Homo sapiens: one gene and its partners. The protein of the gene in region 3 interacts with the protein of the main gene of each other region in a pairwise test. Each region holds a gene or a part of one and is shown on either strand. Other genes may lie near its edges. The genes, in order: PPM1K, PTPN7, PTK7 and CTDSP2.

Region 1 (8,083 bases), on a different chromosome or scaffold from region 3:
ATGTTAATTATAGGTGATGAATTGAGACTTCAAACTACAATACAATCTACCAGGTAATGGAAGTACTAATTATTTGGAGATAATTCCCAAAGCAGCTTTATATCATATAGAAAAAAAAAAGAACTTTAAAGAAATACAATTATTAGAAAATATTTGTATTTGAAGAGTTAACTTGAGATTAGCAAAATACTATTCTTTTGGCTTCGGTCTGAAAGTATATATGCCATATTCAGCCTTGAGCTACTTTGCAGTCATGCACCTACTTTAAATCAGAGTTCTGGAATTACAAATAAATAAATATTGAAGTTTTTCTGCAACTGTTCTAGTATATTCTTGCCGTTTTATCTCCTCTTTATCCTCCCCCCAATTTTTTTTTAAATAATAAAATAGAACTGCATTCTCACAGAGAACAAATATCCACTGGAAACATTTTTAAGAAATGAGATAAAATGCAAATTGAGCAGTTTCTGTAAGGCTAAAAACCTGCGTATTTTAAAATCAATCATCAACCTGGCATCCTTCCTCGTGTATTGTTTCTATAATCATCTCAGAAAGCAGGCAGTCATAGGAAACCACCTACTTTAAGGCATATTATTGGCAGAGATGAAATGTGACCCAGATATATAGCTAGTTTATAAAAAACAAACAAACAGGTCGGCATCGCTTAGGTAAACGAGATGTTACGAACTGGCTCCATGTCCTTTTCCATCTGCAATGTAACTAAATCATATCAATCCCCTCCATATTCCCTAAGAAACAATTCAAAGGCAGCTGGAGTTCCCAAAGTAAATAACAACTTTGAATTAAACCTGCACATTAAGAAAAGTTTCCTCCTCCAGAACTCCACAATTGGGATCTGCCATCATAGACCCCACAGCTCTGCCGATGCCCATGGGAATGACTATGCTTTGACCAGCAAGGCAAGGGGAGTAGAACTTGTGATGTGAAAAACAAAAACCTTAAGGAAAAAAAAAAAGCAATCAGTGTTCTCTAAACAAAAAGAGTGGAGAACAAACTAGCAAACACCTAAGGATTGTCTTTTGTCAGTTCAGCAATTAAAAATTGGGATGAGTTCATTATTCCACAAACTAAGAGAGAGAAGGAATCTTTTTAAGTAAGCAGGGGAGATTTAGGTCAATTTTTTGATCGGAAAACATGGCTAGTTTATTTTTATAAACCATTTTAACATTATATTCAATCTTTGGAAGTCAAGTCATCCAAAAGGAAAGCACTTTCTCTGGCAGGAAGGTGCACTGGATTTGAGTTAAACTGTTCTTGTATGTTAAAAGCAGGTCAAAAGGGCAGTTTAAGCACATGCCAAAATTATTCAGGAGTTCTAAAGTTCTGAAACCTGCTTAGATTTTATCCCTCTAGAAAAAATATTTTAAGAAAGCATTCCTATCTGCCCATTATGAAGTGGCATTTAGGTATCTACAACTTCCACAATGAGAACACAGCCCTTTTAAATATTCTTAAACCAAATATTTACCTATCGACCTTTTTAGAAAATCAATTAAGGCATCCCAGTAAATTCAAATAGTATGGAAATTTCCAGAATGTATTTCAGCTAATTGGGACCCCAATACCTTCTTTCTCAATACCCTGCTAGGAGGAAGGGAAAGAAAATTTACTGCTTTACCTGAGGGGAAAAAAGAAAACAACAATAAAAACTCCAAAGGACTCCCCTTAGGTTTAATGTGAATATGTCTATGTTCAGATGTGTGACTGGAGAAAAGTGTGAAATGTGAGCAGTGAAAAGTACTCAGTATTCTATTCCCATAGATATCTTTTAAGACACGTTAGTAAATATGCATACAAGCCACAGACTATATCCCAAACCTGTAACTTTATAATGCCTTTAAGAACTTTCCTTCACAGTCTATTATGTCACCAGCCACTCTCCTCTCTTCTTTCCTCGTCTCTAAGGATTGCAGTCAAGGAATTTGCCTGGGTGATCAGTAGTAATGACTAAGGTTGCAAGAAAAAATTATTAGCGAGAACTCACTACTCAAATATTGTAACTAAGGTATTTTATCAGACACACACACACGCACGTGCTGCTCTTCTTCCTGCCACAGCTGCCTAACCAGAACACCACAAACCATGGCTGTTTTTCTTTTTCTTTCTGAGACAGGGTCTTGCTCTGTCGCCCAGGCTGGAGTGCAGTGGTGCGATCTCGGCTCACTGCAGCCTCGACCACTCAGGATCAAGAGATCCTCCCACCTCAGCCTCCGGGGCTGGGACCACAGGCACATGCCACCACGCCCGGGTAATTTTTGTATGTTTTGTAGAGCCGAGGTTTCGATGTGTTGCCCAGGCTGGTCTCGAACTCCTGGGCTCAAGCCCGCTTTGGCCTTCCAAAGTGCTGTGATCACAGGCGTGAGCCATTGCTACCGGTCTCATTGCTCTTTTTCATCGTCATTGTAATCTGTCACTTTAGTCGCTCATTCTGAAACCGAAGGACAGCCTCATTCCTCCGCCCTGACGGAAAGAACCGATGAGGCCTTGCTGCACGTTAGCAGTGGGAGGCTCAGAAAAGCCCGTGGAGCTTTTGAGACTGCAAATTCCCTGGCTATTTCCACCTGGAGCCTCTTTGTCACATCCGGTGAATTCCCTCATCTACAGAAAGCGGCTGCTGAAAAAGACATCACCAGCTACAACGCCTTGAGTACTACAGCGCTCCCTGCGCAAAGTAAAACCCAAGTCTTCGGATCAAAACCAGCCGGGGCTGTGCATCCTTCACGATGCCGGACCTCCTGAAAAGCTCACCTGGGTACAGCTCAGGATCCTGGCCTCGGCTCGCTGGCCCTGACAGGCGGGTGGTCAGGGTGACACACGGTGGGAAGAACACACGCCCGCCTGCCTGCGAAGCCTCGCAAATAGCTGGGCTCCCTCGGCACCTTCTGCCGCCAGGTCTCCGCCTCCCAACCTCCCTCTGGGCGTACCGAGCCCGTTGTCGCCACGTTTCCCTCGCCCGGGAGGCAACGCGGCACCCACCCCGCAGCATCCTCGCTTCCGGGGCCTCGGGCAAGGGTCTCCAGTCCCAGCCCACCCACCCTGCCCGCCTCGCGCCGCGCTGGCCCTCCAGCCTGCGGCCACATTCAAGGCCGAGCGCAGTCTGGGCTGGAAACCCGCCGCCCGGGGCGCAGGCAGCCCAGCTGGGCCCCGCCTCACCCCGACGAGCTGCTCACGACCTCCAAAGGGAAGAAAGCGACGCTCTGAGAACTCCGAGAGGCCGCCGGCCAAGCGCCGACTCGGGGGGCGGGGGAACGGAAACCGACGTCTCCCCTTCGACCTCCCGGGAAACCCTTCTCCGTTTACTCTCCATTCCGCGACCGCCAATAAAGAACAGCATACATGGTTAGCAGAAATAAATGAATTGCACTCTCTAGGCTCTTACCTCTGGATGGCTACGTCCCTGAAAAATGTTTTAATTAGCTAACGGAGGACGGGGGAGGAGCTTTCTTGGTCGGTAAATAAGAGTGCCTTCTCCGTCGTCTCGGATCTCCGAAGCAAGCAGTCAAAGCGGCCACTGCCTTGCCTGCTGGAAATTCTCGAAAATTTTTCTCCCGCAGTTGACCAGATGGAGAGGGAGAAGTCTGTTCCCGCTGACTGACAGCAGATCCGGCCAGTCCGCACTCGGCGAGACGGCTGGCCGGCCGCCCGGGCCCTCGATCGCAGCCAGTCACAGATGCCGATGGGAACGAGCCTCCCCGCGGCTGCTATTTGACTTCGCAGGCTTCCAGCTGCGCGGCGGAGCGACGTCACCCTGTGCCAGTGGTGGCTCGCGGCGGCGCCCCGCCCTCCCGAGGTTAGCTCCCCAGCCAAAGAGGGGGCGCGCTTGCGCGGTGGGTGGGGCCGCGAGACTTGGTACCTAGCCAGCGGGCGGAGCGCGGAGGGGGTTTCGCTTCGGGCTAAGGGACTGTAGTTGTGACAGCCAGGAAACCGAGAACGGAATGCCAATACTGCTTAGGCTTAGAGTTTGAAAGGCATCTGATTTCACTGCCATGTCTTTGAACAGCAGTGCACAGTGCAGTCTTCTTCGTGGCTGAACAGGTATCTTGTGATCTTTAGGGAATGTCTATTAATTCATTAAACAAGTATTTCTGTGTTTATTGAAGGACGTCTTGTATGCTATACATTTGCTAGGCACTGGGGATACGCCCCTAACACAGCTAGACACGATAGCTGCCCTCATAGAATTTTCAGTCTAACAAAGAAGAGGGAGAAAACCAACAAGTAAGCAAGCACATAGAATAGTAATTAATCATGTCAAGGAAAGAAATAGGCATGGTGTGGACACTGGAGGATAACTTCAGATAAGATTGTTATATGAGAACTTTATAAGATGGCATTTAAACCATCAGTCATTCAGCCATGGAACCAATAAAATGATGAATTGTTTTGGGCAGAGGGGACAGCAGACAAAGGTCTCTCGGTGAGACAGCCCGGCGTTTTGGAAGAACAGAAAGAAAGCCAAAGTGTCTCCAGCATATTGAGGGAGGGAAAGAACAGCATGATGTGAGAGAGATGAGGCAGACAGGGGCTTGGAGTTGGCATTACATTTTAAATTTAATGGGCTTCTATTGAGGCATTCGAAAAAAAGAAGTGAAAGGGTCTGGGTTTAGACTTTACATCACTTTGGTTAGTGTGCAAAGAACAGTTAAAATAAGCTATTGGGAAACTGATTAGGAGATGATGACAGATGAAATTTAAGGTGGAAGATGACTTTGATTAAACTATGACAATATCACTGAAGGGAGAGAAGAGCAGAGAGATTAGAGATTTTAAAGATAAATAATTAACTTGATTTGGCATTTTAGTTATTCTAGGCCAGGGACAACTGTTTTGAATCCAGTGCATTTAATAACCAGGTTAGAGAGTGACTCTCATATTGACGGCTCACAAATTATAGTAATAACCTTGAGTAATATTATGTTGAGTTGATGTCTTTTCATAGACTTCCTGGATTTTTTTTTCTTTTGTCTTTCTTTCTTTTTTTTTTTTTTTTTTTTTTTTTTTTGAGACAGGGTTTTACTCCTGCCCAGGCTGGAGTGCAGTGGCGCTATCTGAGCTCACTGAAACCTCTGCTTCCCAGGCTCAAGTGATCCTCCCACTTCAGCCTCCCAAGTAGCTGTGACTACAGGCACGCTCAACCATACACAGCTAATGTTTATATTTTTTGTAGAGATGGGGCTTCCCCATGTTGCCCAGGCTGGTCTTGAACTCCTGAACTCAAGCAATCCACCCACCTCAGCCTCCCAAAGTGCTGGGATTACAGGCATGAGCCACTGTACCTGGCGTGGAATTTAAAAAAATAATAATTTTATTGAAACATGTGTCTTAAAAAGTGCACATATCCTAAGTGTAGACAGCTCAATGAATTTTCACAGTCTGCAGACACCTTTGTATCCAGCACCCAGATCAAGGAACAAAACATTATTAATACCTGGGAACCCCATCAACCTGCCTTCCAGGCACTGCCTTCTTCCAAGGGGAGTTTCTATGCTGACTTTCAACAGCATAGGTAGTTTTGCCTATCTTTATACTTGTTATATATAAAGCCATAAAGTATGTGTTCTTTTGTTTCTGGCTACTTGGACTCAACATTACACTTGTGAGATTCTTCCATATTGTTGTATGCAGTTGTAGATCATTCATTTTGTTTTCCATTCTGTGGATATACTGTAATTTATGAATTCATTCTTCTGATGGACATTAGGGCAGTTTGCCATTTAGAGCCATTATAGATAGTGCTACTATGAGCATTCTACTACATATCTGTTGGTGATGGCTTTCATTTGATGGAGTATTTTGGTAGCTAAGTTACTATTAAGTTTTTAAAAATCTGCTCATCAATAATGTAGTATCATGTGTTGCAATATCTCAATCATTTGGATCAAAATTTGGTGCAGATAATGAGGACTTTGCTTTCACAAATGTGAAAAATTTTGGTAACAAGAAAGATGTGGGAAATTTTAAGCTTGGAAGTGTAAAATATTTTGAATTGTCCTGGAGTTTTGACCTTTTTTATAACCACTTGCATGCCCAGCATCTGAGAACATCATGACTTTGCTAAATCCTTGTACCAAAACAGACTGGAATCCAGAGTCACATGATAAGCAAAGCCACTTAGGCTGTTCTGAAGAATATCTTTGATACTAAAACAGTCCTTGAAATTGCCTTTGAAAATCACACCATTTCACACTCTACCACAGCTCATTAAAATTAAAGCCAGCAGTTTACTTCTTTTGAATTATATGCTTCTGGGTTTTGAATCTCTGAAGCATAGCTAAATACACCACAAAAATAATTCATGGCCAGCACAGTGGTTCATGCCTGTAATCCCAGCACTTTGAGAGGCCAAGGCTGCCAATCACTTGAGCTGGGAGTTCAAGACTAGCCTGAGCAACATGTCAAAACCATGGTCTCTACAAAAAAATACAAAAATGAGCCAGGCATGGTGGCGCATACCTGTGATCCCAGCTACTCGGGAGGCTGAGGTGGGAGGATCACCTGAGCCCAGGAGGTCCAGGCTGCAGTGAACCATGATCTCACCACTGTACTCTAGCCTAGGTGACAGCACTTTGGGAGGCCGAGGCGGGTGGATCACAAGGTTAGGAGATCAAGACCATCCTGGCTAACACGGTGAAACCCCGTCTCCACTAAAAATACAAAAAATTAGCCGGCGTGGTGGCGGGCGCCTGTAGTCCCAGCTACTTGGGAGGCTGAGGCAGGAGAATGGCGTGAACCCGGGAGGCGGAGCTTGCAGTGAGCCGAGATCGCGCCACTGCACTCCAGCCTGGGCGACAGAGCAAGACTCCGTCTCAAAAAAATAAAATAAAATGCACAATTATTGGTACACCAAACCCCCATGAAATGCAGTTTATCTGTATAAGAAACCTGTTCATGTACCCCAGAACCTAAAATAAAAGCTTTTAAAATGTGAATAATGTGTAAAGGAAATCATTATTTGGTATTTGACAAAAAATTAAAAAATGGAAAAGAATTCACCACAGAGGCTGACTTGGCATGACAGATCACTGCACAATGTACAAAATAATCAAGGGGATATGGCACTCCGTACATTCATTAAGTTGAGCTACTTCTTTATTCAGTTTATATTTTATTTTATTTACTTATTTTTTTTTAGAGACAGGGTCTCCCTGTGTTTCCCAGGCTGGATTGCAGGGACTATTCACAAATGTGATAATAGTGCACTATAGCCTTGAATTCCTGGGCTCAAATGATTCTCCCGCCTCACTGGAGTAGCTAGGACTACAGGCATGCACCATTGTGCCCAGCTCAGTTTATATTTTAAAGAATTGGACCATCTGCTGAAAACCACTGGCTATCAGAAAATTACACCCAAAACAATTCACAGGGCTTTGGGTGGGTGGGTGGTATGTATAATTGCAGAATTATTAATATTCACTAATGAATCATTTGTTGTTAAAATTAGATATGGACATTTTTGTATACTCAGAATCAGCAGTTTTCTAGAAAAGTATCTGTAGGCTACTCTTGGCCTCATGCCTAAAACATGGGCCTGGGATACTAGGATGTATTTTTTCCACAGTTCAGGCTGCTCTGTCCTGAATTGCTAGCCCAGATGTCCCTTCTCTGTGTTACCAAGATAATTGCCAAAACACTGACATAGAGAATTTTTAGGTCTGTTGCAGTGGCTCATCCCTGTAATCCCACCACTTTTGGAGGCCAAGGCAGGAAGACAGCTTGAGGCCAGGAATTCGAGACCAGCCTGGGCAAGATAGTGAGACCCCTGTTCTACAAAAAAAAAAAAAAAGATTAGCCAGACATGGTGATGTATGCCTGTAGTCCCAACTACTTGAGAGGCTGAGGTGGAAGGATTACTTGATCCCAGGCGTTTGGGGTTGCAGTGAGCTATGAACATGCCACTGCACTCCAGCCTGGGCAACAAAGCAAGACCTTGTCTCTTTAAAAAAAAAAAAGAAAAGAAAAGAGAGAGAGAGAATTTGAAATCTTGTCCTTGGATGCAATTAAACTTGCAGCAATGATTTTATTTTAAAATATGATTGTTGCTTCCCCCACCCTGTATAATTTA
Region 2 (4,843 bases), on a different chromosome or scaffold from region 3:
TGGGATCTCGACTCACTGCAGCCTCCACCTCCTCGGGCTCAGGTGATTCTTCTACCTCAGCCTCCCGAGTAGCTGGGACTACAGGCATGCGCCACCATGCCAGCCTAATTTTTGTATATTTGGTAGAGACGGGGTTTTGCCATGTTGTCCAGGCTGGTCTCGAAGCCCTGAGCTCAAGCCATCTGCCTGCCTCAGCCTCCCAAAGTGCTGGGATTACAGGCATGAGCCTGGCCAATATTCTGGTTTATTAAGCACCATCTTTCTAACCTCTGCCCTTTATAAGTCCTCCTCTAGCTCCTAAGATAAAGGCTATGGACTGAATGTTTGTGTCCCCCCAAATTCATAGGTTGAAGTCCTAATCCCTAAAGTGATGGTATTAGGAGGTGATTAAGTCATGAGGGTAGAGCCTTATAAAGGGGGCCGGTGGGATTAGGGGGAAGAATACCAGCCCACAACCTTTTCACCATGCAAGGACAGAAAGAAGGCTCTGCCTAATAGCCAGACACTGAGTCTGCAAGGGTCTTGATCCTAGACTTCCCAGCTTCCAGAACTGTGAGCAACACATTTCTTTTTTTCTTTTTTCTTTTTTTTTTGAGATGGAGTCTTGCTCTGTCATCCAGGCTGGAGTGCAGTGGCATGATAGCTCACTGCACCCTCCACCTCCAGGGTTCAAACAATTCTTCTGCCTCAGCCTCCCGAATAGCTGACTACAGGTGTGTGCTACCACGTCCGGCTAATTTTTTGTATTTTTAGTAGAGACAGCGTTTCACTGTGTTAGCTGGATCTCCTGACCTCGTGATCCGCCTGCCTCGGCCTCCCAAAGTGCTGGGATTACAGGCATGAGCCACCACGCCAGGCCAGCAATACATTTCTGTTGTTTAGAAGCCACATGGTTTACGGTAGTGTGAATTGTTACAGCTGCCTGGGTAGGCTATGAGGGTCCACCCTGTCTCACTTCCTAAATTGACTTTGGTTTCACCTTACTTTATGTCCTTGGAAGTGCTAGAAAAGTGCATATCCCAAGGGCAAAGATTTGCAGCCTGCCTGTCCCTGGTCTGCAGTCTTTCTCTCTTGCTACAAAGAGGCCCCAGAGGGCCAAGAAGAAGATGGAAAGAAGGAATGAGTCAGTCATCCAAGAAGTCTTTATTTTCCCACTTGGTTACTGTTCTGGAGCTTGTACCCTCTGAGCTCTGAGATGGGGTTGGGGGGACAGTGCCAGGGAGGGCCTGTGGGGCTGTGCAGTTGCTTCCCTCTGGGCTGGCTCTGAGCCCAGGGCAGGATCAGGCACTTGAGAGCCCCCCACCGAGCCTCATTGGCATAGACAGTCGTGCCTCTCACAGGGCTCAGGGGAGGTGGAGGTGTGGGCAAGTCCATCCCCAAGGCTGTAAGGAAGGAGCAGCTCCTCCATAAGGCCAAGCAGAAGCATTAGGGAAATCATCCTCAGTTTTAGCACTGCGTGTTCTTCAGGAGAGAAGTCCTGAGTGAGGAGGCCCAGCTGTTCTCCAGATCCAACTCCTCGGGGGTTTCCACAGAGAGCTGGTATCAAGGCAGCTGTCAGGGGCGGCGTGCCTGGTGATGCGGCATCTTACCTTCATCCCCATCTCAGAATGGGCAGCCAGTCTCAGATTCAAGGAGGAGGAATCCTGAGGTGTGGCGTTCAGTCCTGAGGTAGACCTGAGGTCCCCTGGAAATTGTGTTGATGCTGAGATGGATGAGGGGTGCTCATTCTCTCAGGTAGACAGTGAGGAGTCCTGGTTCAGCCGAGCCTCCATGTCTGCATGGATGGTTATGACCCTGATTGTTTTTGGAAACAGCCAAGCTCTCTAGGTGTACTCAGCAAATGCAAGGTATAGTGGGTCCTGCATACCCAGGGTATTATTTGAGCCATGGAAGCAAAACAGAGACTGCTTAGCCTCCCTAAGAGTAGTTGGTGGGAGTGGCCAGCAACCATGGAGGCAGGAGCAGCTCCTCTTTGCCTCTGAGTAGTCCCCACATGTTCCCTCTTCCAGAGATTTCAACTGCCAGGCCTGGTCACCTCTGTAGCCTACTCTTATGACACATGGGTGGAGGCAAGGGTAACCAGAGTCCTTGTTCTTTCTTTTGATTGGGGTCATCCAGCCCTTCCGATGTGTGGTCAGGGAGCAGAGTCACTGATAGGATGTTGAGACTTGGAGATCAGGACCAGACTTTTCCCCATTCTTGCATCTGGCCTGTGCTTGGGCAGGACCTCGGGTGAAGGATGATCTTGGAATCACCCTTTTGTCAGCCCCAGGAAGGAGTGGCTGGAGTGGCTTCTAGAAACTTCTCTCATTACTTTTCCCTCATGGCAGCTAAGCACTTATGTTCATGTTATAGAACAGGAAACTGAAGCTCACAAAGAGTGTCTCAGAGAACACCAGGACACCTGGGCTTCTTTCTTTGTCTGTCATAAATGCCAGCTCCTGTCTTTAAGTTCAGAGAGACATTGGAGGTTCCCCTTACTGTCCATCTGGGGCCAACAGAGGAAGCAGAGGAGTGGCCAGTGTTGAAGACCTGGAATCCGGCCCCTTGTCCTTACTGCTGCTGCTTCCTGTGACTGCAAGCACCACTAAGGAGGCACTCCTTCCCCACACCAACCCAAGGGGTACCCCCAGATCACTCGGCCCACTTTCCCCAGACCCACCTTCCCAGGCTTGAGGGAGGTAGGCACCTGGGCCACCGGAGGGTGGCAGGGGTCAGGGGCTGGGTTCCTCAGGCAGCTGGCCTGCATACAGGGCCAAAGTGTGGTGCAGGAACTGGTACTGCTCTGCCGTCTGGATCATCCCCCCTCTGCAAGGAGAAACACACAGACCATGAGTGAAGGAGGGTCAGGGTGCTGGCTGAATGGCTCCAGTCAAACATCCCTGTGGTCCTACTGGGAAAGTCCTGACTTTCTCAAAGAACATGCCAACTCCTTTGCCTATATTCATCTTTTCACTTTTTTTTTTTTTTTTTTTTTTTTGTGAGACAGAGTCTCACTCTGATAGCCAGGCTGGAGAGCAGTGGTATGATCTCAGCTCACTGCAACCTCTGCCTCCCAGGTTCAAGTGATTCTCCTGCCTCAATCTCCTGAGTAGCTAGGACTACAAGTGCCTGCCACCTTGCCCAGCTAATTTTTGTATTTTTAGTAGAAACAGGGTTTCACCATGTTGCCAGGGTGGTCTTGAACTCCTGACCTCAAGTGATTGGCCCATCTTGGCCTCCCAAACTGCTTGGATTGCAGACATGAGCCACCATGCCCCACCACCTATATTCATCTTTTCTACTTTCTACTCCTCATTGCTGCCCCTCAGATCTGCTGTGAGAGAAGTCCTCTGCCCCTTACACGTGCTGAGGGGTGATGCCCCATGTTGACACTTGGTCTTCCTTGATCCACTCAGCTCCTGGGACAAAACCAGATCTCTGAAGCCTTGGGTCGGGCCAGGAATACTCCTGAGCCTCAAGTTTCCTTCTTTCTAATAATCTTAAAAAGTAAAAATAATGATTCCATACATTTGTATAGTAGTTTCCATTTCCAAAACATTTTCATATAAGTTAACTCATTTCTTACAACAGTTTTCTGGGGGAAGGAGCCATTATCTCTGTCTAGATAAAGAAGAAGTGGGGGCTGGGCACAGTGGCTTAAGCCTGTAATCCCAGCACTTTGCAAAGCCAAGTGGGCATTGTTGAGCCCAGGAGTTCGAGACTAGTCTGGGCAACATAGTGAGACCCCCATCTCTATTATTAAAAAAAGAAGAAAGAAAAAAAAAGAAATGGGGGCTCAGAGAAATCTAGTGACATCTCAGTGAGACAGATGTCAGAATCTGAACACCGGCTCTGCCTCCACCCAGTGATCTTCTTTGCACTACTTGTTGCTGCCTCATATCATGTTTAATTCCAGGCATCCAAGCCAACATTCCAGACAGATATTCTTTTTTTTGTTTTTTTTTTTTTTTTTTTTTGAGTCAGAGTCTTGCTCTGTCACCCAGGCTGCAGTGCGATGGCACAATCTCGGCTCACTGCAATCTCCACCTCCTGGGTTCAAGCAATTGTCCTGCCTCAGCCTCCTGAGTAGCTGGGATCACAGGGGCCCGCACCAGGCCTGGCTAATTTTTGTATTTTTAGTAGAGACAGGGTTTACACCATGTTGGCCAGGCTGGTCTCGAACTCCTGGGCTCAGGTGATCCACCCGCCTCAGCCTCCCAAAGTGCTGGGATTACAGGTGTGAGCCACCGCACCCGGCCATCCAGATAGATATTTTTTCCTGGTTGTTAGTTGTAAAATAAACAGCTCTAAGCAGAAAGGGTTTCTTCCTTTCTTGCAGGAGTGCTTGATGGTGATGGGCCTAGCAGAACTCTGGGGCCCAGAGGCACTGATGCCATCCGTTAACGTTGTTGGCCTTGTTTACACCCACAGACCCACCTGTCTAGCCGCAGTTGGCACACAATACCCAGAATGTCCACTTCTCCTCGGGCTTTCAGCTGTTGACAGCCAATTCGCGTGGCGATGAAGCAGCCCGTCCGGCCAATCCCTGCACTGGAGATAGCCAGGGAGGGGACAGGGAGGTCATGGGAGACCAGGGAATATGAGAGCCAGGCCCCAAACTATGGAGAAAGAAATGGGACCTGCAGGTGCTATATTTTGGGGATAGGGCTCTGGAGATGGAGGCAGGTAGCAGTACTCTGCTTTCCAGTCCCCTTGGGGGCCCTGCTGGAGGCAGGTTTTAATTGGCATGGGAGGAGTTTACATTTCTTACCAGCCTTACTGTAAGCCTGTTGCAGGCCACCTTTTGGTCCCTGTGGACATTTTGACGATCTCCCTTCTGCTGAGTCTACAGTGGTTTCCA
Region 3 (7,756 bases):
CCCATCCCCCTCCCTGGTTTCTTTCCTCCGGGCTCTTGTTTCTTTGGGGAAATTGAGTCGTCATGTTCTGGGATAGGCTGTCTGCAGATTCCTCAAGGCTCTGCAGCCTGTAATTCAGGCCTAGGAGTTGCTTTTATTAGTGATGGCTTTTCTCAGCTGTTGGGAAGTATGGTGGCAGGGCAAGGGTGCTCTTCTTGTCACTTGTCAAATGATATACTCAAACTCCTGGTGTTCAGAGCAGCATTGAGTGGTGGACAGAGCTCAAGCAATGGAGATAAAGTATGGTCCTTCCTTGGCATCTGCAGGGAATTGGAATAGGACTCCCTGAGAATAACAAAATCCAAGGGTGCGGCCAGGCCTGGTGGCTCACGCCTGTAATCCCAGCACTTTGGGAGGCCGAGGCGGGCGGATCATGAGGTCAGGAGATTGAGACCATCCTGGCTAACACGGTGAAACCCTGTCTCTACTAAAAATACAAAAAATTAGCCAGGCGTGGTGGCGGGTGCCCGTAGTCCCAGCTACTCGGGAGGCTGAGACAGGAGAATGGCCTGAACCCGGGAGGTGGAGCTTGCAGTGATCGTGCCACTGCACTCCAGCTTGGGCGAGATCGTGCCGAGATCGTGCCACTGCACTCCAGCTTGGGTGACAGAGCGAGACTCCGTCTCAAAAAAAAAAAAAAATCCAAGGGTGCTCAAGTCTCTTATATAAAATGGTGTCGTATTTACATATAACGTACACACAACTTCCCTGTATACTTTTGTTTTGTTTTGTTATGAGACAGGGTCTCCTCTATCACCCAGGCTAGAGTGCAGTGGCACAATCTTGGCTCACTGAAGCCTCAAATTCCTGGGCTCAAGCAGTCTTCCTGCCTCAGTGCTCTAAAGTATGAGGATTACAGGCATGATCCACTATGCCCAGCTTCTCCTGTATACTTTAAATCATCTCTAAGGGCCAGGTTTACGCCTGTTATCCCACCACTTTGGGAGGCAGAGGGAGGAGGATCGCTTGAGCCCAGGGGCTCAAGACCAGCCTTGGCAACACAATGAGACCTCCACCTGTACAAAAAAAAAAAAAAAATTGCCAGGCATGGTGGCACGTGCCTGTGGTCCCAGCTGCCCAGGAGACTGAGGTGGGAGTATTGCCTGAGCCCAGCAGGTTGAGGCTACAGTAAGCCATGATTGTGTCACTGCACTTCGGTCTGGGTGACAGAGTTCAAAAAAAAAAAAAAAAAAAAGGGCAGGATGCAGTGGCTCACGCCTGTAATCCCAGCACTTTGGGAGGCTGAGGTGGGCGGATCATGAGGTTAGGAGAGCGAGACCATCCTGGCTAACATGGTGAAACCCCATCTCTACTAAAAATACAAAAAATTAGCCAGGCGTGGTGGCAGGCGCCTGTAGTCCCAGCTACTTGGGAGGCTGAGGCAGGAGAATGGCGTGAACCCGGGAGGCAGAGCTTGCAGTGAGCCGAGATTGCACCACTGCACTCCAGCCTGGGTGTCAGAGCGAGACTCTGTCTCAAAAAAAACAAAAAAATCTGTAAATTACTTGTAATACCTATTACAATGGAAATGCTATGTAAATAACTGTTGTATTCTTTAATTTGTATTCTTTTTTATTGTTGTATTGTTTTTAATTTTTATCTTCCCCCAGTGTTTTTGATCCTCTGTTGAGGGATGTGGAGCCCAGGGATAAGGAGTATATCTGGCAAAGCAGCAACTCAGACTCATTGGCAGGCCCTGTGGCCCTGGATGAACCTCTTAGCTTCTCAGCCTCTTCTATAAAGGGACATCCTAGAGTTGTGCTGAGGATTAAGTATAATGAAGTAGGCCGGGTGCAGTGGCTCACATCTGTAATCCCAGCACTTTGGGAGGCCAAGGCAGGCGGATCACCTGAGGTCAGGAGTTCAAGACCAGCCTGGACAACATGGTGAAGCCCCGTCTCTACTAAGAATACAAAAATTAGCTGGGTGTGGTGGCACACACCTCTAATCCCATCTACTCAGGAGGCTGAGGCAGGAGAATCACTTGAACCCGGGAGGTGGAGGTTGCAGTGAGCCGAGATCGCGCCGCTGCACTCCAGCCTGGGCGACGGAACGAGACTCCGTCTCAAAAAAAAAAAATACACACACACACACACACACACAGCCCTTTCTTGGTCTTCCCTCTGTGGTGTGCTTCAAAGATTCCTTCAGCTTTACAGTCATTCCCAACAATAGACATTTTACCTACTGGGACCCTCCATTCCAGTCCAGCTGGAATATTTGCCATCTCCTAACACATATCTGGTTTTCTCCCACCTTTCTTTCCTTCGGGCCAGTCCCCGGTTGTACATTGCCTTCTCCTGTCTCTCTGTTGCCCAGCCCCACCGCCTCTTCTTCCCTGAAGCTGTCCTATCTCTCCTGCCAGAAGGTAGACACTGTAGAACTTCTGGACTGTCATTCTTGCGACACCATCCATATTTTTGCCCCTATTGGGTTTTGTTTTAATTTACTGAGGGGCTCTCCCATAGAGTTTAGTACAGTACTTATTTATAATGGGTTCTTATGTAGGTGGTTTTTTTGTTTGTTGTTTGTTTGTTTTTGTTTTTTTTGAAATGGAGTCTGCCTGTGTCTCCCAGGCTGGAGGCATTGGCACGATCTTGGTTCACTGCAACCTCTACCTCCCAGGTTCAAGTGATTCTCCTACCTCAGCCTCCTGAGTACCTGGGTTTACAGGTGTGTGCCACTGCACCCAGCTAATTTTTGTATTTTTAATAGAGACGGGGTTTCCCCATGTTGGCCAGGCTGGTCTCGAACTCCTGACCTCAGGTGATCTGCCCACTTCAGCCTCCCAAAGTGCTGGGATTACAGGCGTGAGCCACTGCACCCAGCCGATATAACAGGTCCTCATATAGGTTTATTTAAAAAGTGAATGAACCATTTGGGTGCAGGGCAGAATGATCAAGGGTGGAGTTAAATATCCCCTTGCATCCTAGGCATGGGGAGTCTTTTGCACCCTCCCCAGCTTCTTTGAGTTGGGGTTGCCTGTTCCTCCTTGCGCCTGCTCTACGGTGACCAAATTAAGGATCAGACCTTCCTTCCCTGATCCTGGGCTGGCTGGTTTTGGTGGTGGTTTTTCTCAGTTTTGATGTGGTGGGTCTTCTAGCTTTCTCCAAGTTCTGTGCGTGGGTAAGCACCGCTACGTATGAAGCTGACTGCAACTTAAAAACTGGTGCTAAAGTTGCTTCCTCAGAGAACTGGGTAGGGGCCTAGAGTATCTATAACTGTGCTACTTGAAGAAAGACCCAGGGCCACGTGGCATCAGCATTCCTGGGAGCATGAATCAGAATCGCAATCTGCAATTTATTTATTTATTCTTTTTGAGATGGAGTCTCACTCTGTCGCCCAGGCTGAAGTGCAGTGGCACGATCTTGGCTCACTGCAACCTCCACCTCCTGGGTTCAAGCGATTCTCCTGCCTCAGCCTCCTGAGCAGCTGGGATTACAGGCGCGCACCACCACGCCAGGCTAATTTTTTTGTATTTTTAGTAGAGACAGGGTTTCACCATGTTGGTCAGGCTGGTCTCGAACTCCTGACTTCATGATCCGCCCACCTCAGCCTCCCAAAGTGCTGGGATTACAGGCGTGAGCCACCGTGCCCTGCTGCAATCTGCATTTTAACAAGATGCTCAGGTGACTCTGTACCCCAGAGTTCCAGAAGTCCTGGCCTAGGCATCCTTCTTTATACAGAATCTCAAGGCACAGAGCTTTCCTGTTGCAACAGTATAAATTGGGAGCTGAGATGCTGCACAGTATTTGAAGATTTGCTTTAAATAACTCACTTTATGCGAACACTCCTTGGGGTGATGTGTACGCTTTAATATTACCTCCTTTGGGTTTAAATTGAATTAGATTTTGTCAAGAAATTTCTCCATTAAATGTGTGACTCTAGGAAGTCTGCAATATTCAGCCTGATGTTTAGCTCCTCTCAGAACCTCAGCTTTTCCTAGAGGAGAATACGGCTGATTTTATAACGAAAGCCAGTGGAGAAACTGGATTTGTTAGGCAGAAATTTGGTCGACAGACAACTTTTCAGGAATACATTTGGCTCATAAAGGGAGGCATGTCTCCGCTGGGCTTTGACAGCTGTAGTGTTGTTAGTCTTTGGAGCATTTCATATTCTGGAGTGAGGGGGTTTGTGTGAGTCTGTGTTTAAGCCAATGCAGCTTCTGTGAGACTCGTCTGGGATAGAGGTTGGCCGGTTCAGACTCTAGTGTTGGAGCCAAGAGCAGTTTGGGGCCAAGGATTCAGTCTTTGGTGTTTTCCTGATGGAAGAAAGGGTCATTAAACAAGGTTGGGTGTCCTTGGCCTGTGTCCCTCAACCTCCTGCTCTCCCTAACCTCAGTAGATGCCTCTCTGCTGCTGTGCCTGGGCACTACCCCTGGCCAGAGCCACGTGGTGGGGTTACAGGCTTGGGGCCACAGTTGCTGGCACTGGCCCTCACCTTGCCCTGGAGCTGCCGCCTGCCCTTCTCCTGATTCCTGCTCTGGCCCCCATCTGCCTGGTCCTTCTTCTGAGGGTGTGAAAGTCCTGCCATTGTAGCTGGTTAGAGTCCTATGTTGGAATTCTCTTGAGTTCACTGCTGAGCCCCCTGGCGCTTTGGTGGAGCTGGCCTGAGAGATGCCACAGCTAATCAGCGGTTTGAGGAAGCCCTCTGTAGTATGTCACTTTTTCCATCCTCTTTTCTTCTCTGCATTTAGGCCGTTTCCCTCCCAATAATGTTACACAGACAGCAGTGGGGCAGGGAGGAAGCTTGGTTCGAAGGGCTGACACACACACAGGCGCCTTTCCCCTCTCGCAACTTGGTTTTACATTGCTAAACTCTCATCTGCTGTGTGCATTAACTGGGGTATGTGTTGAGTGAACGCTCAGGTGACTAGAACGTCATCCACCAGGTGTCCTGCAGATCCCAAGCCCCTGTTAGAAGTGTAAGCCTTGATAAGCGGGATATGCACTCACAGGTTTAGGTGTGTATGTAATTTCTGAAGACAAAGTCCCGAGTCGCAGGGTAGGGATTGTAAGTTACATATTAGGAAGGTGTAGATATGTGTTTCTCAAATTAGAGTGGAGAGTATAGGGCAGGTCACCAAAGTATTGATGAAAAGTTTAGTTTCCTGGGCCTTACTGCAGACCTGCCCATCAGAATTATTGAGGGAGAGGCCAGAAAATGCATTTTATTTATTTGTTAGATTATGTTGCTGTTTTTGAATAGCTGATCCAGTTACATAGGCCAGATTTCAAAAGGAAACTGCATTTTAATTTTTATTTATTTATTTTTGAGACAGGGTCTCACTCTGTCACCCAGGTTGGAGTACAGTGGTGCAATCACAGCTCACTGCAGCCTTGTCCTGTTGGGCTCAAGTGATTCTCCCGCCTCCGCCTCCCAAGTAGCTGGGACCACAGGTGCATGCCACCATACCTGGCTAGTTTTTTAAATTTATTTTTTATTTTTAATAGAGGCGAGGTCTTGCTGTGTTGCCCAGGCTGGTGTTGAACTCCTGGGCTCAAGCTATCCTTCTGCCTCTGCTTGCCAAAGTGTTGGGATTACAGGCGTAAGCCATCACGCCCAGCCTGGAAACTGCATTTATAAAGAGCTTCCTGGAGATTCTTACCTACGCTTAAGTGTGAGAACCACTGGGTAGCCATAAGGAGAATTTATCAGTCTGAAGCGGAGGTGTGGTGTTGAGAAAAAGGGTGATATTAATAGTGGGGGGCTTAGGAGGGAGTTCATTCAAAGTGCTTCAGTGTCTTCTATGGGTGAAGCTGTCTGAGGAGGCATGGAATGCAGGAAGAAGACAAGATGGAGAAACGTGAATCAGATGAAGTATGAAAGACACCATTTGGTAAAGTGCTAAGTAGAATAGAAGAACATTCTAGAATGTGTGGGATGGTAAGTCTGAGATGTAGGAGCAAATAGGGGGTGGGAGGGCTTCAGAGAGGAGAGAAGACCCTACATTGCTGAATAGATGTAGTCAGTGACGGCCTCAGAATGATGAATAGATGTAGTCAGTGACGGCCTCAGAATGATGTAAAGTCATCGGACCAGGATTCTGAAAACCTGGGTGGTACTGTTCTAATATCACATGGCAGCCACAAGTGATGAAGTAATAGAAGAGACATCTATAGACCTGTGACACCAGTTTTTCTGTATTCTGGTCCTGGCTCAATTGCTGCATACCCACATGACCCTGAGCTGGTTAGTTAACCTTTCTGAGCCTCAGTTTCCTCGTGAGCACAATGCAAGTGATGCTGTTGCCTGCCTTGCTGGCCCCTGTGAAGTTGTGATATAATGCTCTTCAACTGTGGAAATGGGTGACCCCTGGGAAGCAGCCCCTCTGGCTAGCCCTGATGGTTCTTCCCAGAGACTGTCCTGGCCAGCCGTTTCCTTTTGAGGGGTCAGCCTTTCTTTTTTGAGATGGAGTTTCTCTCTGTCGCCCAGGCTGGAGTGCAGTAGTGCGATCTCCACCTCCCGGGTTCGCGCCATTCTCCTCCCTCAGCCTCCCGAGTAGCTGGGATTATAGGTGCCCGCCACCATGCCCGGCTAATTTTTGTATTTTCAGTAGAGACGGAGTTTCACCATATTGGTCAGGCTGGTCTTGAACTTCTGACCTCGTGATCCACCTGCCTCAGCCTCCCAAAGTGCTGGGATTACAGGCATAAGCCACTGTGCCTGGCCAGAGGTGTCAGCCTTTATTTCCAGCCTTCGGACCCTAGAATGGTTTGCCAAAGGCTCAACAAAGTCCCTCTTGACTAGCAGCCTTAGAAATGGTTTTCTCATTTGGGCTGGGTGCGGTGGCTCACGCCTGTAATCCCAGCACTTTGGGAGGCTGAGGCATGTGGATCACCTGAGGTCGGGAGTTCGAGACCAGCCTGACCAAAATGCAGAAACCCCATCTCTAGTAAAAATATAAAATTAGCCGGGTGTGGTGGCGCATGCCCGTAATCCCAGCTACTCAGGAGGCTGAGGCAGGAGAATCGCTTGAACCCGGGAGGCCGAGGTTGTGGTGAGCTGAGATTGCGCCACTGCACTCCAGCCTGGGCAACAAGAGCGAAACTCTGTCTCAAAAAAAAAAAAAAAAAAAAACATGGCTTCCTCATTCAAAAGCACAAGTTTTCTAAATGGGTCTCAGTATTCCAACAGCAGCCCAGAAATGTGGGAGCCACACACAGCCACATTTTCCTGGTGGGAATTCTCCCTCTCTCTTTGTCTCAATAGCAGATTCTCCCAAGGGGTGGGTTGGTGCTGGTTCAGGGCCACTGTCTCTCCTGGCATGCTGAGGTTCTCAGGGAGTGGGTAGTGAACTGTGCTTCAGGCAGCCTAGGCAGACTTTTATGATACCCAAGGGAGGGGTTTTTATAATCACTGGATGACTGTGGGGGTTTCCCCAGTCAGCGACTCTGTTAATTTGTGGGAACTTCTGTCTGTGCTGTGGGGAGGTTCCTGAGATTCTGTGTGGCCAAGGGCAGTGGGCTCTCCCTGGGGGTGGTTATGGGGGCCCGCATGGGCACTATCATGTACAACCTCCCCTCCAGGAGACACTCTGGCTTTTTTTTTTTTTTGTCTCCTCCTTGGGGTGGTGGCGGGGCAATGAGGGGAACGCTTGTCTGCTTTGGGACTGCTGAGGTGTCCCAGCAGCTAGCTCGTATGGTACCTTTGTGCACATTACAAATAAGTACTCCCAGTCGTGGGCGCAGTGGCTTACGCCTGTAATCCCAGCACT
Region 4 (8,121 bases), on a different chromosome or scaffold from region 3:
AAGGAAAAGGCCTGACAAACCTTTGGGAGTGGAGGAGCCATTGGTTTTCAGGACTGATAGGGGGTAGGCATGAGTTAGGTGGGAGAGAATTGGGTGACCTCAGGTTTCTGGCTTGGGGAACTGGGCAGATGATGGATGCAGAAGGAACAGCTTTGGAGGAAAGGAGAATGATGATGATGAGCATAGTGTCTATTAAGCACTCAGTGTTTCAGGCATAAACACTTCATACATCATCTCATTTAATCCTCACAATAACTTACAAAGTAGGTACTATTGTTCGCTCCATCTTAAGGGAAAACTGAGTCAAGAGGTTAAGTAATTAAGCGGTGGTGTTGGAGTGATGAGCATGCCTGCACCTTGCAGGCAGTGAGGTTTCCCACGCTGTTGCACAGAGGAGCTATCCCCGCTACCACTAGCTCCTCCCTCCCTCTGCAGCCCTCAGCATCTGGCACCCTCACAGCAGTTCAGTCATTAGCCACTGGGTCTCTCTCCCTCACCCCACCCCATCTCAGCCCCGATACTCTGCCCTGGGAAGCCAGGACAGGACCATACCATACAAGCCTTGTGACAGGAGGGCACCAAGCTCTGGAATCTTGGCATTGACATCCACCTACTCATGAACAATACAAAGCAGAACTGAGACTGCAGGGACAATCAGAAAAACCAAGAAAATCAATGTGTTCCTTTTTTTAAAAAAAAAGTTTTTAAGAAAAAAAGTAATATTTCAGTGACATCAGAGATAATCATGAAAGGTCGGTAGCCCAACCTTGTACTTATTTTCTGTGGGGAAAAGGGCAATTAGGCATCTCCCATGGAGGAAGCTCCTCCAGCTGTTTCCCTTTCGCCAGCCTTGGCTCGGGACACCCAGTCCGACTTCAGTAGCCACAGCAGGAGACAGACAGGGACAGCCACTCCATGTTTGCCCCACATAGCCCCCCATTCTAGCATTTGGGGGTAATGGGGACACTGCTGTTGTTTCCAAATTGCCTCTTACCAACCATGCAGTCAGAGAGGCCAGAGGAAAGGGGATACAGCAGGTAGGGAACCAAGTGAGAGTCAGTGGGCTTTCTCCTGGGAGAGTTGTTAGACCTGGCTTCAGCTATCTCCCTTGAACCACCTAAAATGAACCACCTAAAGTTACACAACCAGCAACTGGCCCAGGCCCCGTAGGCAGGATGTTATTTTTGAGGCTATTTTAGGCAGAAGTTAGAAGGTCCACTTGCCTCCCACCACCCTCACCACTTCAACTATAGGAAAGAGGCCCACCATGACCCTACAGAGCTTTCCAGAGTGCAGACCTTTTCCTAGTCATCTGTGGACAGAGCAGTGAGAAGCCTGTGGCATCAAGAGAGCAAGCCCCACCTATGTTTGGGGTTCCAGGCTCCAGTAGCGCCTCCACTGCTTTTGTAGTCTCTGGAAGCACAGGGGTCCTCACCAGGCCTCTTGGGAACTGCCCCTCCTCCCTCATTTACCCCTCCTTGCTGGGTTCTATTTGTACCCTTGTGCCTCTGGCCTTGGAAGGGGTTCTATCTGTTATACATAAATTTTTCTTTGACCTCAGAGCAAGAAATGCTTGAGGACCATCTCCTCTGCATCTTTCAGGGACAGCCAGAGCCCTGAGACACACATGAAGGCATCTACTGCATCCAGGAGTGAAAGTAGCATTGTTTTAACACTGGGTCACAATCCGGTGGTGGTTTGTGAATTCAATTTAAAAGGTCATGGCTGGCACCTTAAAACCATCAAATAGAACACAATACGTGCAATAGAAAATATGAGTGTGCACACATAGCCAGGGTAAGTATTGTCCATGAAACTTTTGTATCATTTATCTCACAACATAAAATGTGTTTCTTGCTGTAGGTCACTGAACAAATCCCTGGACAAAAGAACACTGGTTCAGACATAAAGTCAAGGCCAGGCATGGTGGCTCACACTGGTAATCCTAGCACTTTGGGAGGCCAAGAGGCAGGTGGATCACCTGAGGTCAGGAGTTTGAGACCAGCCTGGCCAACATGGTGAAACCCCATCTCTACTAAAAATAGAAAAATTAGCTGGGCATGGTGGCAGGTGCCTGTAATCCCAGCTACTCAAGAGGCTGAGGCAGGAGAATTGCTTGAACCGGGGAGGCGGAGGTTGCAGTGAGCCAAGATCACGCCACTTCACTCCAGCTGGGGCAACAGAGTGAGACTTCATCTCAACATGTACAAGTCACCTGTTCTGTGTTAGGCACTCTGCTAGGCACAAGAAATCCAGTAAAGAATAAGACATCCCCTAGTCTCAATCCACCTTCTGGTTGGGAAGCCAATAAGCACACAGTTGCAAGATAGGGTGCCAAGTGGTCTGAGAGAGTATGTATGAGGCTATAAAACCCTGACATGAGGGCGGGCATCTGGGAGGGCTTCCAGGAGAGGTGATGCAATTGGAGTTCACAGCAGGAAAAGAGAGCGATAGGTTCTAGTGTCTCCTCCATCCTATAGATAAGAAGGGAACTATGTTAAAGTGTCAAGGGTTCTAGTCTTAAAGTCCAAAGACATCCTGTCTCCTCTTCTTAACAAGCTGTGAGGTCTCAGGTGAGTCAATTAACCTTCCCAGACCAATTCCTCATTTACAAAACAGGCATCTATAAAAATGGGCATAATATCTGCTCTATCAACCTCAAAGAAGTGAGAGATCAAATGAAATAGATAATATATGTGAAAGTACTTTGTAAATTACAAAAGGGGAGGTATTGTCTCTATGGATGAGGAAATGGAAGCATAACGAAGTGAAGTGTCCTGCCCTACAGTGCTATGGGTAGCAGGCCCCTCTAAATCCTCAGTCCTCAGCTCCTGCCTGCATTCCTCCCACTGCAACTAATCTACCTTAGAAGAGGGCAGGGGAAGGGTCTAAAAAGGCCCCCATAGCAACCTGACTATTGAAGATTTACCTTAAAGATCCTATTGTTTTAATGATGGGAGGTGGGTATGTCAGAACTCCTCCGTTTCCCTTTCTGTTAATGAATTAAGATCTACCCAAATTCAGTGTTTAAAGTTACATAAGCATCATTCAGATCTGTAACAGCCACTTTCATTTTGGAAAAACAGCATTTCCATTAAAATGATGTTATATAAAAAGGTTTTGTATACGTGCGTAGGAACAGCAGAAACAGGCACACATGATCACTGTATGGCACACAGGCATATGCAGATCATGACCTCACCTGTCCTCATGAGGAAGGGACCATAGGAAGCAGGTGTCTGATAGTACCTGGCAAGCTTAGCTGTGACCTAGTTGTCCTCTAATCATCAGTAAGACCTGATGCATGTTGGGCAATGGGAACTGCAGCAGGAAGGAAGCCCCTTCCTTGGCAGGGTGAGTGCCACTGAATCACAGAATATTGGGGTTGGATTTAGCTCAGAAGTCACCCAGTGCAATCTCACTCTACACCACTCTTGCCGGCCTTGACTTGAACAGCTACCATTGTCCCAAGGCAGCCCATGTCACCTGTGGACAGATGTAGATCACTGGAAAAGACCTGATATTGAGCTGAAACCAGCCTTTCTGGAGCTACCACCGCTGGGGAACAAAAGCACCCACAACCTTGAGCAGAGACTCCAGGAGCTGTAGCCAGCGGAGCGTGCCCCGAGGCCTAAAGAGCAAGTGGGGAAGGCAGCCTGAGTCCACAAAGCTGAAGCTCCTCCGAGAGACCTCCATCCATCTAAAGGAAGCTGGGACTGTGGGGGCAAAAAGAGAGGGGTAGGATGAGGGAGGTAGGGAGGAGGGGCGGAGTCGGGGCCGCCTAAATGGGAGTAAGTCGGTGGGTGTGAGGAAAGCCCAGCACCTCAGGTCTCATTTTCAGTGTTTTGGGGGACACAGTCCCGAGGTCAGTTCCAGCTCTTATACTCTGGAGTCCTAGGTCCGCCCACACGCACACACCCCTTTCGGGATTCGAAGGTTGTACTTTTTTTTTTTTTTTTTTGAGACAGAGTCTCGCTCTGTCGCCCAGGCTGGAGTGCAGTGGCGCGATCTCGGCTACCTGCAATCTCCGCCTCCCGGGTTCAAGCAAGTCTTTGCCTCAGCCTCCCGAGTAGCTGGGATTACAGGCGCCCGCCACCACGCCCGGCTAATTTTTTTGTATTTTTAGTAGAGACGGGGTTTCACCATCTTGGCCAGGCTGGTCTTGAACTCCTGACCTCGTGATCCACCCACCTCGGCCTTCCAAAGTGCTGGGATTACAGGCGTGAGCCACCGCGCCTGGCCTCGACGGTTGTACTTTTATGTGACTTGGTACGTCCTTGATTCTAGGGCTAAGCAGGGGGGTAAGGTAACTTCCGATCCGCCCCATCCCCTGCTGGAGTCAGGTTAGGCTTAGCGGCTTGTCTTGGTCACCCCTGAAGGGGGAAACCTTTCCACCTTCCCCGAGTGCGCCCTCCGAGAAAAGAACACCCCAGCACAGAGCACCAGAACGTGAGCTTCGGAGCGGCCTTTTAAATAGTTGGGAAGGGGGTGTGGCCGAGGAGACTGGGAGGCCGCAGTCTGGCGCGGGGGGAGTGGCCCGGGGGCGTGGCCGTGGCGCCTGGAATGTTGTTAGGTCCTCTCACCGCATAGTAAGGAGGGGCCACGCCCCTTTTCTCCAAGAGAGCCAATCGGAGCACCGGAACGGTTTCAAGTCTCCCCCGCCAGCCTGCCCGCCCGCCACCCCACCCCCCTTGAGGATTCGCTTTTTCCGTAACAAAATAGCAAAGCTCCCGACTGTCCGCAGCCCCGGCCGCTCACAGATGGAGGGTCCCAGGGCCTAGGACGCAGCCCCCAGCGGGAAGCTCCAGCTGGCCGTGAAGAGGCCGAGTCGAGAGCCGGGAGGCGCGCGGGGGTGGGCGCTGCAGCCGCGGGTTGTTTATCTGGAGTACGGAGGGGAGGGGGGAGCCTGGAAACCGCCCCGTGTCCCATTTCCTCCTCTTGTTTTCGCTCCGGATTCTCCATGTTGGACCCAAACTGAGGAGCCCGGAGCTGCCGCTGGGGGATCGGGGCCGGGGGCACCCGGGGGAGCCGCTGCCCGGGCCGCCCGCCCTTTGTACAGGCCGCCTCCCTTCCCGGTCCGGGGAGGAAACGAGAGGGGGGATGTGAACAGCTGTGGAAGTCGGAGTCTCGGGAGCCGGAGCGGGCCCCCGCCCAGGCCCCCCAGCCCAGCCCAGCCCGCGCGCCCGCCCGTCCTCCCGCCCAGCCAGCCCGGGCCCGCGGGATTGTTAGATGGAACACGGCTCCATCATCACCCAGGCGCGGAGGGAAGACGCCCTGGTGCTCACCAAGCAAGGTAGGGGCAGCAACTTCCCAAAACTTTGCGTCGCCCCCGGGCGCGGAGGGGGCTAGCACAGCCCCGAACCCAGGTCTCGGCCCTTGACCTCCAGGGCTTAGAGCCAGCGATCCCGACTGGACCCCTCCGGTCCATCCGCCCCCGCATCCCGGCTGGCACTCAGACCTCCGTGGGGGTTGCACGGGGATCCCGGCGCCCGAGCGGAAAGGGCGTCTTCGGCGCAGCTGTCACCCTGTCCCGCAACCCCTCCCCCTCGGGGCTGAGAGACGGAGGGGTAGCTCTCGAAGCACTGGGCCACTCCGCGTCCACCGCCTCCGGAGTTGGGGGTGGGGTCGTCACTTTCCTTCACCGCCGCGCGCGGCTGCCCCGGGATCGCGGGGAGGGGTTAGGAAGGTGACAGAGGGAGCCCCAGGTGGAACGGAACCGAGACTGGAGTCCAGCACTTGCAGGCCCCCCCAAGCCCGAGGTCGTTCGGGCAGCTAGCTGGCGGTGACGGCGTCCGGCGGGACTTGGGACCAAGTTCACCTCTTGGAGGCGGGGGCGGTCGCGGTGGGGGAGGGGCCCGGGCCCTGGCGCACCAGACGTGGCGGGTTCCCGGCTCAGCGCAGGCCCCGGGACCTTGGCGGCGTCGGGCTCCCTCCCGGCTGCCTCTGACCAGTTTCGCTGAGCAAACAAGCCCGACCCTGAGGCCCGGCCAGAGCCCCTCCCTGCCCGGTGCGCTCCCCCGGGGCCGGCGCTGCACACACAGAGCCGCGTTTGTTTAGCCCGGGAGCGGTGTCCCTGGTTACATAATTCGCCGGATGGCATCAGACCCGGCGTGGTTCTGAATCGCGCAGCGAAAAAGTGCGAGTTCTCTGTGGGCAGCGGCTGGCGGCCCCCGCCTTCCAGAGCGTCAGGTGGAGGCGCGAGGGGGCCCGCAGGCCCTCGCGGGGGTGAGGCGGAGGCCGAGGCCTCTCCCGGGGCGGGAGAAAGCTGGGGCCCGAGGGTGGAACCTCTTAGTTTGGTCACAGTGGGAGACTCGAAACTCTTTCCCCCTCCGCCACGTTCTTCTTTTGGCCTTGAGGAATGTGTCCAAAATAGCGGCAGATTTTCCGCGGGGTGTAAGGACGAGTGTGGCGTTTCTCTAGAGAGCCCCCCGACCGGGGCCACCTGGCCCCGGAGGCTGGGGCGGGAGCTGGCTCCTGGGGCCGAAGCCGGAGCGCTCCCTCCCCTTCTCCACCGAGCGCGAAGGGCCGGTGCTGCAGTTGAACACACTGAGGCCTAGAGCCTGGTGGGCGGCCAGCTTCGGGGCCTCGTGCGCCCCACGTCTCCCCGTTTGGCAACATTAGTCAGCAGGTCACTAATTCCTGGGGTTCACGTTCCAAGGAGCTCCCCCAACTTCCCTAGGGGCAAATCCGCTGAGTTGGTGGTGTCAGCCTCTCCCAAATTCCCTCAGTGGAACGAGAGGAGCTGGGAGGGGGGAAGGGTGGGGGGAGGGAGGCAGTGTGTTCCTCTTGCATCACTGGCCGGACTTTAAATAAGCCTGCCCTGAGAAGGGATGGCCTTGCCTACTCAGATCCCAACCCCCGAGAAGGCTCCGGCCTCCCTGACCTCGGTGTTGCCATGATTTCTGCTCTCCTGGCTGCATCACTAACCAGGCTGTGACCCAGGCAGCAACTTCACCGCCTCTGCTGGCTGCTCAACTGTGCTGATGGCTGAAAAAGGAAGGGAGCCTGCGTGTGTTTATAGCTCACTCCTGACTCTTCCCACTCCCTTTTTATCCCAGGAAAAGACCCTAAGAGCTAGCCAGAGGGGAAGAAACCTAGATGTGGGGGGATTCAAGAGGGGGCAGTGGTGATGAGTAGGGGGAGGAGCCCTGTGCTTCCCCACTAGGTCTTCCTCTCTTGCAGGGACTCTCTTGCAGGGAGTGTGCCTTGGGCATCGTGGGGCCACGCGAGGAGTAAGGGAAAGCTGGACTGCGCCGGGGCATCTTAGAAATCAGAGCTGGAAGTTTCATCCACCAGGGTGAATGGCAGGCTACAGAATAGATAACAGCAGAAAGCAAAGCAACTGGCTTGACAGTGTTAAGTTGCTGGTGTTGGATTTTCTTGGAGTTAATGTTTCTCCTTTTTTGTGTGTGTGGTTTAAGCCAGCAGCCACTGGGTCTCTCCCTCCCCATGTAATTTTTTATTTTAATTGAGATGGAGTCTTACTCTGTTGCCCAGGCTAGAGTGCAGTGGCGCAATCTCAGCTCACTGCAACCTCCGCCTCCTAAATTCAAGCAATTCTCCTGCCTCAGCCTCCCAAGTAGCTGGGATTACAGGCGCGCGCCATCACGCTTGGCTAATTTTTTTGTATTTTTTAGTAGAGACAGGGGTTTCGCCAGTTGCCCAGGCTGGTCTCGACTCCTGAGGTGATCAGCCCCCTTCGGCCTCCCAAAGTGCTGGGATTACAGGCGTGAGCCACCGCGCCCGGCCCCTCCCCATGTAATTTGATTGCATTCCAGAGAAGACAGACTTTCTTCCTGGGCTGCTTAGGCACCCAGCAACCACTAAACCAACTTTCTGAGTCCCACATCATTTACAAACAAAACCTACGTCTTCAAAACAAAACAAAAAACAAAAGCTGGGGGACTGGGGAAGCAGATGTTTTAATTGGCTCCTTTTGGAGTTCCTTCTTCTCCCCACTCCGTCCTCTCCACAACATCCCATCTCCATGCCTTGCCTGCCTTTGGAAAAAGGGGAAGAAGGAGTGTGAGGTACTTATTATTAATAAGTAAATTTCTGGAAAGAAACAAATTGCTCCTAGCTTGGGTGGCTATTTAGTGAAGTTACTTGCCATTGCGGGTT

Evidence for each region.
Region 1: the proteins of PTK7 (region 3) and PPM1K interact in a two-hybrid assay, tested with the Homo sapiens proteins (one study listed by BioGRID and IntAct).
Region 2: the proteins of PTK7 (region 3) and PTPN7 interact in a two-hybrid assay, tested with the Homo sapiens proteins (one study listed by BioGRID and IntAct).
Region 4: the proteins of PTK7 (region 3) and CTDSP2 interact in a two-hybrid assay, tested with the Homo sapiens proteins (one study listed by BioGRID and IntAct).

What each region holds. Positions count from the first base shown.
Region 1 is NC_000004.12:88,281,006-88,289,088, forward strand, and holds the start of PPM1K (protein phosphatase Mn(2+)-dependent 1K), read right to left. Parts: upstream 3,557-8,083; 5' UTR 3,401-3,556; intron 3,221-3,400; exon of another isoform or gene 2,770-3,220; intron 1-2,769. UniProt on the Homo sapiens protein: Serine/threonine-protein phosphatase component of macronutrients metabolism.
Region 2 is NC_000001.11:202,145,892-202,150,734, forward strand, and holds the end of PTPN7 (tyrosine-protein phosphatase non-receptor type 7), read right to left. Parts: intron 4,534-4,843; coding exon 4,420-4,533; intron 3,482-4,419; coding exon of another isoform or gene 3,344-3,481; intron 2,809-3,343; coding exon 2,715-2,808; 3' UTR 1,125-2,714; downstream 1-1,124. UniProt on the Homo sapiens protein: Protein phosphatase that acts preferentially on tyrosine-phosphorylated MAPK1. Plays a role in the regulation of T and B-lymphocyte development and signal transduction.
Region 3 is NC_000006.12:43,078,836-43,086,591, forward strand, and holds part of PTK7 (inactive tyrosine-protein kinase 7 isoform a precursor), read left to right. Parts: intron 1-7,756. UniProt on the Homo sapiens protein: Inactive tyrosine kinase involved in Wnt signaling pathway. Component of both the non-canonical (also known as the Wnt/planar cell polarity signaling) and the canonical Wnt signaling pathway.
Region 4 is NC_000012.12:57,843,544-57,851,664, reverse strand, and holds the start of CTDSP2 (carboxy-terminal domain RNA polymerase II polypeptide A small phosphatase 2), read left to right. Parts: upstream 1-4,935; 5' UTR 4,936-5,229; coding exon 5,230-5,293; intron 5,294-7,903; exon of another isoform or gene 7,904-8,121. UniProt on the Homo sapiens protein: Preferentially catalyzes the dephosphorylation of 'Ser-5' within the tandem 7 residue repeats in the C-terminal domain (CTD) of the largest RNA polymerase II subunit POLR2A.